Homo sapiens: one gene and its partner. The protein of the gene in region 2 interacts with the protein of the main gene of each other region in a pairwise test. Each region holds a gene or a part of one and is shown on either strand. Other genes may lie near its edges. The genes, in order: DCLRE1A and ERCC6.

Evidence for each region.
Region 1: the proteins of ERCC6 (region 2) and DCLRE1A interact in a two-hybrid assay, tested with the Homo sapiens proteins (one study listed by BioGRID).

Annotation. Positions count from the first base shown.
Region 1 is NC_000010.11:113,850,947-113,858,247, forward strand, and holds the start of DCLRE1A (DNA cross-link repair 1A protein), read right to left. Parts: upstream 3,137-7,301; 5' UTR 2,237-3,136; coding exon 1,777-2,236; intron 1-1,776. Other genes in the region: NHLRC2 (NHL repeat-containing protein 2), read left to right, coding at 3,927-4,104. UniProt on the Homo sapiens protein: May be required for DNA interstrand cross-link repair. Also required for checkpoint mediated cell cycle arrest in early prophase in response to mitotic spindle poisons.
Region 2 is NC_000010.11:49,453,806-49,459,251, forward strand, and holds the end of ERCC6 (DNA excision repair protein ERCC-6), read right to left. Parts: intron 5,430-5,446; coding exon 5,010-5,429; 3' UTR 665-5,009; downstream 1-664. UniProt on the Homo sapiens protein: Involved in repair of DNA damage following UV irradiation, acting either in the absence of ERCC6 or synergistically with ERCC6. Involved in the regulation of gene expression.

The DNA of each region.
Region 1 (7,301 bases), about 64 Mb from region 2:
AATTTCCAGATTTATCAAAAAATGACACCTCCCTCCCCTCAAAAAAGATGTTATATTTGTTATATTAAATTAGAAAACTTCATGGCTTACAACCTAACTTAAAAATGCCTCTTAAAAGCATTTGTTATAGAATGGAATTTAATTCAAGAGCCATCTGAGAGTCTACTCAAAGGAGTTTAGTGAAAAACCAAAAGAAAAATTTTTTGAGGTGGCTTCATCTATATGACATTTTACCCTAAGGTCTTCAACCATGGACTCCAATTTCCATTCTTGATTTTCAAGTTACATGAAAGAAAATTACTAGCAAATTTGTGAGGTTTTCACTTGCTATCCTTTTCTGGGAAAGGCTAATGCCAAATTTAAAGAAGAGTTGTTTTTTTTCTGTATCTTCATGCAGTACTTTAAAATAACTACAGGTTAATAATAAAATGTATTCTGAATCATAGCTAACATGAAAGCCATATTGAGTATTTTTTTATTTTACTGAATTTTAACTTTTTCAGATTAAAAAAATCCATATATGGAATATAAATGATTTCAAAATATATAAATCATCACAACAACCTGTTCTCCATATGTATTCCAAGTAGGATTTTCTACATTAAATACTTATTACATATTTTAAAAGATAAAAAACATAGCATACTTTTATTATCATTTGACACGTTTTTTGTTAGAATCTTAATCACCTAGGACTCCTTCACAGTTCCTCTTCCTGTATACATAGCACGATGACTAAAACATAACCATATTTAGAAACCACATTATATCTATACTTTTTTTTTTTTTTTTCAGACAAGGTCTCCCTCTGTCGCCCCACCCAGGCTGGAGTGCCCTGGCATGATCACAGGGCCCTACAGCCTCGACCTCTTGGGCTCAGGTGATCCTCCCACCTCAGCCTTCCAAGTAGCCCACCACACCTGGCTAATTTTTGGTAATTTTTTTTGTAAAGATGGGGTTTCACCATGTTGCACAGGCTGGTCTTGAATTCCTAGGCTCAAGTGATCCGCCTGCCTCCACCTCCCAAAGTACTGGGATTACTGGCATGAGCCACTGTGCCCAGCCTATTTATAATTTTCTATGGAGTTCCATAATAACCACCAACTGGGGCCGGGCGCGGTGGTTCATGCCTGTAATACCAGCACTTTGGGAGGCCGAGGCGGGCAGATCACGAGGTCAGGAGATCGAGACCATCCTGGCTAACACGGCGAAACCCCGTCTCTACTAAAAATACAAAAAATTAGCCGGGTGCGGTGGCGGGCGCCTGTAGTCCCGGCTACTCGGGAAGCTGAGGCAGGAGAATGGCATGAACCTAGGAAGCGGAGCTTGCAGTGAGCCAAGATAGCGCCACTGCACTCCAATCTGGGCAACAGAGAGAGACTCCGTCTCAAAAAAATAAATAACCAATTGGACAAGTTATCTGACTTTTAAGAACTTTCATCTATAAAATGTCAATACTAGCTACCTTATATGGTGATTGTGAAAGTTGGGTAAGTAGACAGTGTGAAAGTACCCAGCATAGTAAGGATTCAGTTAACATTTATGGAAAATAATCCAGATACTTAGGAACTTTTATGAAATAACACAATGTATTTAAACTGTTTTCTAGTCTGCCATTTGCTTTACAATTATACCGTTGACTGGTATGGTGTTTCCCAGTGTCTCATCTCTCTTTTAGGTTACTGCTTGCCTTCCTTGTTTCACTGAATTGGTATGTCTGACCTAATGAAGACTTTTTAGATTATTTAGAAACTACTACGTTTTCTGCAGTCTTACCTGTTTCAGAGCGTGGTGGAGAATCCAAACATTCAAAAACATGCCATCGAGGTGTCTGCCCTATCAATGAGGAAAAAGGCATCTGGCAATTTGGACAGTATCCATCATAAACTGGACGTATCTTTGGGGACACGTGTTGGCTTTTTTGAGTTCTACAGAGTTTTCCTGGAGTAGTTTCCTTGTCTTGGGTCTGCTGAATACCATCTCCACAACTTGAATTCTGACTAGAAGCAACAGAAGTCTGACAACCTGCATTTCCAAGGGGCACTTCATGGTCCTTCACCTCTTTAGCTTCTGCGGCTCTTTTTCTGTTTCTACTCCGTTTTGACTGGTATTTTCCATCTGTTGCTTTTTCAACAGATTTTAGAATATTTTTAGAGCCATTATTTGGATCAACTCGTTTTGGTTTTCTTTTAGATTTGTATTCCCAAATGTCTTCTTCGGAAATGTCTTCTAACATGGCAAAATGATTTTATCATTCAAGAAGTATTAATCTTAAGTAAACTGAAAGTCCATTTCTTGTCACAAACAAAAAGTTATAGAATTATTTTGCTGAGAAAAAAAACAAAGGTAACAAAACCCCCACCAACTCAATGGGAATCTGCAGTGTTGGTAATGAACATATTGGCAAGCTACAAACCTTGTACCTGACAACACCTGCTATTCCATTTATACCACAATGAAACTAAGATAAACCTATCACAGGAGTAGCAACTGTGAAGTTCTCCATTATGGGTGCTATTTCATTCAAATATCTTGTCCTTTTCCAGGGCTTGATTCATAAAAATAATACTTCAAAAATTAAGCGCTAATGGCAAATATAGGTTCAACAGCTTAATCTTAGAACGAGATTTGTAACATTGTTATGAAGCTACTGTCAGTTCTTTCAAGTGGACAACCGTCCAAATAATTCATAAATCCAACCACAGTCCCTGGACAAAGGGCTTAACAGGTATCCCAAACACTAAATGACTATCTAACAAAACTAGTCACAACATAATCAAAGAGATGTGTAATTCGCAAAAAACTGCGAAGTCACTGCCCTCATCCACGACTAGTGGATACTCAACCACTTCAGTTTCCCGCGACAGTCCATGATCTTCCTCCAGCAGCAATGAACAATCCCTGCACAGTGAACAAAAAAAGTTGATATGTGAAAAAAGTTCAAATATGTGAAAGAGTGGGCTTGTATTGAGGTCTGACTCCGTATTGCACCCATGGTTCCGAAGGTGGCCAGCCCTCTGTCCACCTGACTCAAAACGGGGTCACACGCCAGCCTCTCCCTTATCTTTTGGCATTAGAGGCTGGGAGGCCAGGAAGCGGGGCCTTAATCATCTCCAGGTTAAGCATAGCGAGCTCCAAAAAGCCCTCAGAGTCCTGCCCTTCTGAAGACTCTAAGGCCCGCCCTCAAGGACCCTCACCGCCCCCCACCTGCCACTCGGCACCCCAAGGGAGCCGCTCCAGCTGCATCCGCTCCTCCCGGCACCCCCATCTAAAAATGTGTTCGCGCCCGCACTTTCAGCACTCCCAGATGACAAAACGCTGTGTTTGTGTATAAGTGAAAGCCACTCGCGCCAGTCACTTCCAGTTTACAAAGCCTTCTCTCTGGAGGTTATCCCTACCCGCTTTACCTTTAGGGTCTTGGCGGGAACAAGTTCCCGCTGCCAGTGCCGTGTCGAATCGGCGGATGCTGTTCAAAGAGAGAGACTTTAAAAATAATTTTTAAAAATACATTGCCCTTTTAAGTCCTACGGATTTATTGTATTTTATTTGTGTTCGAAAGTCCGCTAATTCCCAATGTGGAGGGTTGGGGATGTTTCCCTTAGCGCCTCTGGGACGCTGTCCCTAAGGCCTTATTCCATGTTGAATCTGACGCTCTCAATGTCCAGGCTCGGCTGCGGCGTGGGGACCGAAAAGGGGCGGGGTGGGTCGGACGGCAGTTTAATTACGTCCCCGGGAACTGCGCCGATTTGGACTTTTGGCACTTGGACCTATGCTTTAAAAAGAAAAAAGTGTCATTGGCGTGGAGTGGGGCTAGTGGAGGGTGAGGTGAATGCGCCGTTTGGAAACCACAGGACAGTGAACGTTTCGTCTCTCCCAGCGAGACTCTCCCGCGGGCCCGGCGGCCGCATCGGGAGCCCGGCGGAAACATGGCGGCGCCCGGAGGCCGGGGCCGCAGCCTCTCCGGCCTGCTCCCCGCGCAGACCTCGCTAGAGTACGCCCTGCTCGACGCCGTTACCCAGCAGGAGAAGGACAGCCTGGTCTACCAGTATCTGCAGAAGGTGGACGGCTGGGAGCAGGACTTGTCAGTACCCGAGTTTCCGGAAGGTGAGGGGCTGGCGTCGGGGTGGGGGCCCCTCCCGGCACCTCCCCTTCCTCGGGGACGGCGCCCTCCCGCGAAGCGGTGGGCTAGGCGGGTTTGTGCCGCTGGCGCCCCGGGGAGTGGCCCTTCGCCTAACTTGGGCCGCTGTTCGCGTGTTCTGCAATTCCCAGGGGTCCCCAAGCGGCCACCGACGGGGGTTTCCCTGGCACGGGGATCCACATACTCGTCTGTGTATCCTGAGTTCCGCCCGCGCCTGATATTAGCCAAGTGGACACTCCGTGAATATTTAGTGTCCCCGGTGGCAATGATTGCAACGTCCACACCATTCTGTCCATTCAATCTGGTTCCCCAGTGTCTTCTGGTCATCTTTCTGCATCATCTTGACATTTATTGATCACTTTTTCATGTATCACACACAGGGTTTTTTTTTGTTTTTTTTTGATACGGAGTCTCGCTCTGTCTCCCAGGCTGGAGTACAGTGGCGTGATCTTGGCTCACTGCAACCTCCGCCTCCCAGGTTCAGGCGATTCACCTGCCTCAGCCTCCGGAGTAGCTGGGACTACAGGCCCGCGCCACCACGCCTGGCTAGTTGTTTTGTTTTGTTTTGTTTTGTTTTGTTTTGTTTGTATTTTTAGTAGAGACGGCGTTTCACTATGTTGGCCAGGCTGGTCTCGACCTCCTGATTTCAAGTGATCCTCCCGCCTCCGTTTCCCAAAGTGCTGGGATTACAGGCGTGAGCCACCGCGCCCGGCCTGCCACACACAGTCCTAAACACTTGAGGGGATACCTAAACACTTGAGGAGATATTACCTTATTCAATTACCTCTATATCCCAGTGAGGTGCTCCTATCATTCCCCTTTCACAGTTGAGGAAATGGAAGCACAGAGAGGTTAAGTCACATGCCCAGGGCCTCACAGCTGATAACTGCCCCAGTTGGATTATACAGGCCCTGGATTTGCTGGTTTCTTAGCTGTACTGTGCTTCTCCGTTCAAAGTCGTGAAACTAATACTTTTAAAAATCGGAATCAATTATAGCCTATTTCCAGGGTTTAAATCCTGGCCATGTGAGCTTTTGGAGCATGAAGGAACAGATATTCCCGGCAGGGATGTTTGTGAAGCATATCTTGCCATGATAAATGAAAACGTATTTTACCTTCTTTGGATGGGAGTAGCATTGCTTTGCCTGATGGTGCTGGCATGTGTCCTGGCGTGACACTGAAACCACATGTATAGTTAATTGGTTGGATGTGGCAGAATTCAGTTATCTCATGGGAGGTATATCGGAACCTGCCTCCGACAACAGAGTATTGGTGTCTTTCCAAGTCTTTTGCACTACTCACCTTGAGAAGTGCTTATTTTTCCTGCTATTAATCTTATACTGGATTTGAAATATTGTGGAATTCTTACAAAAGAATTGGGTACATGAATGCTTATCCCATCAAACTTTAAAAGATTGTTTACATCTATACAAATATATGATTTTAAAAAGTTTTGGTGCAGAAGGTAGTTATATAGTAAGTACACTGTTATAAACAAGCAGGCCATCAACTGGGATTTGGGGAATGTTTTTTATTTTCTAGTCTTGTTTGTATTTACAGGGAGTGTATTTTATTCCCATGAGATTTGACCTCTGTGACTCATAACTAAAAAAACATATAATAAAATATTCAGGCTTTGTGTTTAACACAGTATGATTTTCTCCTGGACCCGATTATTGAGGACAGAATGCTAGAAATGACTGTTTTCTTGGTTTCTTTAGCAGTAAACTATAATCAGGAAGTCATAAACATAACTTTATTTGAAAAACTGTATGCTTTGTTCATTTCTTAGAAGACTTACATGTTTATAGGAGACAGTGCAGTGTAATGGATAGATTCACAGAGACCTGGAATTAGATCCTTGTTATTTCCATTTTGTTGGTTGTGTGATTTTGAGCAAGTTACTTGACCTCAAAGCCTTATATTTCTCACTTGCAAAACTGAACTATTATTTACCTTTCAGGATTATTATTTGTATTGAAAGTAATATATGTAAAATTCTTAATTCACAGAAAAGCTTACTAAATGTTAGCAGCTTTTTATTGTATTCATTGTAATTATTGTTATTGTAAAATAAATTTTATTAAGCCTGGTAAGTATCTAGCACGGTGACTAAGATGTAGTCATTCTTTCTATACCCCCTGATCTAAGCCACTCTTGACTATTTACAGAAAAGTCACAGAAGACAGATTAATAAATATTTTGCAAGTAGGATATGAAATATACATTAATTAGTCTGAAGTTTTGTATGATCACTTGATCTGGTATATAATTAATATTTTAACAAAATGGATAATTAAGAGGTCACTGTACCCTGAAACCTCATTAGTTTGGACTAATTGGCCCAAATACTAGTTTGATCTGCAGATTTTTTTTTCTAGAATTTTGTTATGATTGAGTAACAACAGTTATTGTTGTTAATCATTAGCTGTTACTGTTTACTTCTTCCTCCCAAGTTTGGCTTTCAGTTGCTAAAAGCTATTCTAAATACCTGCTTCAAGGCATAATTAATAGTTGTAATAGCTGCATTGAGTTATTTATAAGCAGTAAACTTTGTTTTCTTAAATTGGTTAAATAGGGATGCTGTACTTTATTATTAGTTAACAAAATCTTTCTTCATAGTACAGAGCTTTCTTTTTTTGGAGGAAAGGGAACACGTTCTTCATTAATATTAATGTTACCTCAATGAAATCTGTGACAATAATAAGTGTATTTTGCTTAACTTTACATTTAGCATATTTTATTTTGTATTTACGGTCTCATCCAAATCCAGAATATTTCAGTTTCTTCTCCTTTAGGAAACTGTTTTAGGCATTTTGTATGTTTATCCTTACACACATTTCACTCCTTTTTGATGTTTAGTTATATCTTACTATTCTTAAGCTTGACCTTTATTCTCAGTAGCCCATTTGTATCTAATTGTTTATGTAATTAGGTTCATTTACTATTTGATATTTCTTCCTTTTTTTTTTTTTTTGCCTAAGTGTGTTGCCTTTACTCCTTTTCACAGACTGTTACCCTATTTCTGAAAGAATTTAGTAGCTTTTTCTTGCTTTATTTGCAGATGGCATCATAATAGCAGCTTTCCCATCCTCTACTCCTCCTGCTCCCCCACCCGTACCCCCATCCCTTCCTTTTCTTTCTTCCCTTTTTGGGCTTTTAA
Region 2 (5,446 bases):
GCCTTCTGGCCTCCATTATTTCTTTTGAGAAGTCAAGTATTAATTTTGTTCTCTAAGTGATGTATCTTTTTTTCACTCACTACTTTCAAGGTTTTCTCATCTTTGATTTCAGCATTTTTGACTATGATGTGTCTGTGAATCCCTCTGCATTTATCATGCTGGAAGTTCACTAAGCTTCCTAGATGTTTTTCAATCAATTTGGAGAGTTTTCAGTCATTGTATCTTTAAATATTTCCTTTTTCTTCTGCTCTTCTTGTACTCCCATTACATGCATACTTAATGGTGCACATAATGGTGCTTCACATTTCTCTGAGGTTTTGCTCATTTTTCATTTTTTTTCTCTCTGTTCTTTGGAAAGCATATCTCTCTTATTCTATCTGCCAGTTGGCTGACAATTTCTTCTGCCAGTTCAAATCTACTATTGAACCCCTTTAGTGCATTTTTTCCTTATTATAGTTTTTAACTTCATGAATTTAGCTCTTGCCACTTGAAGCTGGAGGGGATAAGAAATGCTGGCATCTTGCCCCTCCCTGTGAGGTACCATACCTCTGGACAGGGAGCTGAGGGAGACGGAGCTCTGTTTTCTTGGCTGCACCCACTGAAATGGGAGGGAGGGAGTGAGTGTGTTGTGGCTGAAATGTCTGACTCACTGTTCTTACCAAGATTTGGATTTTCTTGAATAAGCGTTACTTTATTCTACATGCTTTTAGGACAATTTCCAGTGGCATTAAGTGTTTGTGTCTCTCTGTATGAGAGGAAGGTGTTTATTTTTTGTTACAATTTTCACTAGTTATAGCTAATTCCTAGGACAGTGGGTCCACAGGGCCCTTCACATTGCCATTCTGGAAGTGAAAATCTAAAAGATATTTCAATGTTAGAAAATTTAACTGTGTACTTTACTACACCAAGAAAAGCTATACAATTATATCAATATATACCAGAAAAGACTTTGAGGACAATCATTCTACCATTTGTGATAATCAATTATGATACCACAATGATAAAAACAGTGGGTTACTAAGCAAAGTTAGATAAATGGACCAATTTAACAGAATGCAGAGCCAAGAAACATTTCCGTACATTATATGTAAATTGGTAAAGGTGGCCTTATACATCAGGAGGAAAATAATAAACTATTTTTTAAAGGTGCTAGGGAAACTAGCTATCCATATGGGATTAATAATTCATAAGAATGTATTCATGACCCTAGCTAGGGAATGGTTCTTAAATAAACAAAAAAAAATGGAAAGACTGAATTTACTATATTTTAAAACTTCCGTATGATAAACATCACAAAATAGATATGTGAATATGCTAATTCTCCATATTTTTATGTAAGTTAAAAGACTCACAACCAAAACTAAAAATCTATAAAACACCTAGGAATAAGCCTATTATGAAATGTGCAAGACATTTATGAAGAAAGTTATTAAAATTTCATCCAAGAATATAAAAGACTTTAATAAAATGAGGCCTATCATAACACTAATCAGAAACATTATATTAATTATAAAGAGGTCTATTATTCTCAAATTAATGTGTAAACAAATGCAATCCTAGTCAAAAGAACACCACAATTTTACTGGAATTTAATAAACTAATTCTTGATTCAGCTGGAACAGAAAACACCCAAGTATAAGACACTGAAGAGGGGGAGAAAGGAAAAGGAACTTGCCCATGAATGGCAAAACACAATGCAAAGCACCAAATGACAGCGTGAGGAGTGTGGTTGGTAGAACCAACACCTGGATCCACAGGACAGAAATAGACAACTTAGCATGTGATGAGTTGAAAGCTGACATTTTAAACTGGTGGAGAAAAGAATATTTGTTGATCATTGGAATAACTGCCTTTTTGTTTTTGTTTAGGGGAGCAATCCTAAAAGATAAACAACCCACAGGAAAACTAGGCCAACATAACACTAATAGGCAATGTACGGTAGAGATCTACAAATGGCCAATAAACATGGAAATGTTTGATTTTGTACGTAATCAGGGAAATTCAAGTGAAAACAAGGTACTTTCAATCACGAGACTGGTTAAAACAAAACAAAACAACCTATCGATATTGATACCACTTACTGTTGGCAAGGGTTTGGAGAAATGGGTCCTTTTATGGAGGGTGAATTGATGCAAGCAATTCTGCTACATCCACTGACATTTAAAATCTACATCATTAATCCAACAATTCTGTGCAGGCAGAGCTATACTTACAGGAATAGAAATGTCTTGCATATAATATTAAATGAAAAGTTAGTTGCAAAATAAGGATGGTATAAGGCCATTAATATAAATTACATATTTAAAGCAAACTAATTGCTATAATAGACTTCAAAAGACAGTAGCTTAAGCAAGTCAGTATTTTATTTTACTCTTAAATAACAGGTCAAAGGAGAGCAGTTCAAGACTGGCAGGCCAACTTCTCCTTCCTCAACACATCACTTCCATCTCTTGAGATGCCAGGTCACTACTGAAGCTCCCATTGGCCTCCCAGCCAGCAAGAAAGGGGAATGTCAAGGAGAGTGCATACCCTGCTTCTTTAAAGGGCCAATTGGGAAGTTTAAAACTTAGTCATATGGCCACAATTAACTATAAGAGAGGCTGAGAAGTAGTCTTAAGCTGAGCAGCCAGACGTCCAGGTAAAACTCAAAAATTTTATTAGTAAAGGAAGAATGGGAAAATGACATTATAGCAGCAGTCTGTGTCATGTGATTCTCTAAATGCATGGAGAATACACACCAAACCTAGGGCTGTACTTAGCTGTGGAACAGGTGCAAGATGGTGTGGGGGTGGGGAGGCAGACTATTGCTTGAACATTTTTAATGGTGATAGTATTAACATTTAATTTTTTGACAAAATTTTAAAATCCTTTATTTGTGCTGATAAAGCATGTTAAATACATTAAATCTATTTACACTGTACAAAGCTTTTAAAGTTCTAAAAATCAGATTTTTATCTAAATGAATAAATTTCTCTGTATTGTTAAAACCATTCTACTTAACTGCATTGTTCTCCAAGTCCCTCCAGCCAGGAGGCACGGTAACAATGTGTCAGATCTCCACACTGAGACACCACCTTCCCAAGATCATGGTACATCAGCAGCAGAACTGAGACAAAAACTGGAACAAGGACCACCTTGCTCCTACTGCATTATAGCTTTTGATAGTATTTGCTACTTGAAGAGGAGGCTATACCTTGTCTAGCTCAATACAGTTTATGTTTCAGACACTATAAGTATGATACCCAAATGCTTCATGAGTGAACAAGGTCAGCAGATCACCCTGAGAACAAGGAAGACACAATTTCCTTATAGGCTAATGATTATAAAAATAGAAATTAAGAGCTCCCCAGAAACAAACCACTTAGTCAAAAAGGAAGGAGTTTTGACTTTCTTCTAAGCCAAGTACTCAAGTTTAAGACTTATTGGCCTATTTAAAAATTCTTTCTATGACTTCTAAACAATGATGGCAAAGTGACAAAAATAATGTAATCATCTTCTTCCCTCATTATATATAAACCAAACTAAAAACAAAAGAAATGAACAAGCTATAATCCAAAAAAAACTAGAAAATCCTGACAGGAATCATATAGAACATCTCTAAGAAAAGGATTCTTGGCTTAAGCAAAATATTAGAGCAGAGAAAGCAAAACTCATGTCCTCTCATGCAGTCCGGCAAGGCCCCCCTGCCCAGAACCCTCCTCTCTGAGTCACATGGATGAGCAGACAGAAGATCTGGACACAGCTATCCATGTTAAGCATGAGAGAGATGTAAAGAAATAGCAGGGTAGGAGGGCAGGCATACTACAGAAAAATGAGAGAGAGGAAAAGAGCATGCCAGAGAATACAAATCCAAGAAACAAACTGCACTAAGACAGCTAAGAAGAAATTTCAGGAATACGATGAATTTCGGAAAACAACACTTCAAAGATGAGATGATAAAATCATCCTGAGAAGGAAACAAGAAAAACATGGGTAAGAAAATAAACTGAGGATCAAAGCAACACCATCACAGAACCACAAACACATAAACAGTAGTGAGATACAAACAGCCTTGGCTGGAATCCAAACCGCAGAAACAAGAAAGCCCGTCGCAAGGAATGCAAAGGCAGGCGCAAGACGAAGGCAACTGGAGAGAAGACAGCCTGCCAGCCTGCAGACAAGAGAGGCCTGGAGTGGTGTCACTTCATGGTAACAACGGCTGGGTCTGCTGTGGGCTGCAGTGATGTTTGTGTGCATGCATGTGTGTGGTTTTTATGTACCTACTTTTGGCTTTAATTTGATTTTTTTTAATGATAACACATTTTGTGACTGTAGGAGAGAAAAAGATGCCCTCTGCTTAAAGGAAAGCCAGGGTAAACTGAATACCCTACAGCTTTCCACAAATACATGTCTTATCATTTATTACCATACTATTTCATGCTTTACTAATAAAAATACTCACCAATTTACCAGTACCTTGAAAAGAGGATCTTTCCAAGAAAATTAATATAATTATCAAACAACAAATAACAAACCTGACCTTTGTGGGTGGCAAATGGTAAATATAAATGTTTAAAGTTTAAGCATCAAAATAATGCTGTTATCAGATATTGATGAACTTATTGAACAGGTCTGACTGAATGTAAGACCTGTTTTTAGCACCAATAAAAAAAAATATTGAGATTTCTGTTCTGCAAACTTCTAACTGTGCTCCCTGACAGCATCTTTTGGGTAAAGGAACAAATGTGCTCCAAGGAGTAACTGTTAGGTACCTGATTTACAATATAATTAGATTGCCAAAAAAAAAAAAATCAATCCAAGTATTTTCTCCTTTAGCTAGCATTATTAAAACTTTTAACTTTCAGAGAAGAGTTTCTTCTTCCTTAAAGTTTTAATTCTGAGGTAGACATCATGCAAACAAACATCAAGTGCAGCCAACTTCCATTGACAAACATGATTATTAATAATAAATTAATAATCAGAAATGCCCGTTAGAAAAAGGGACTTGAAAGTTTAGGAAGCAATGTTGTTTAGCAGTATTCTGGCTTGAGTTTCCAAATTCCTTCACCACCAGAAGTTCTATGGAAAGTGCACAGATTTCTCAATAGTTCTCGGAAGACACAAGACTGTGATGCAGATAACTTGGATTCAAACTCCTGCAGTATCTCCCTGGTGCTGGCCTGGCCATCAGTGTGGGCCTGGAAAGCGATGAAGTTTCTCATCTCCACCAGAAGGTCATCGTGTTCTGTGGTGGGCAGCAGGGCAGAAGCTTCCTGCAGGTGCCCGCTTTCACTTTCTAAACGCTCTGGCAGAATCAGGTGGTTTCTAGCTCTCATTTTAGCCAAGAGTGAGGAGGAAGCGAGGGGCCCGGATGAAGAGTCTGCATCTTCTGCTCTTCCACTAAAATGCTCAGGGACATTATCTTTTCCCTCCTTTTTCATGATGCCATCCTATAAAAAGAAGACCA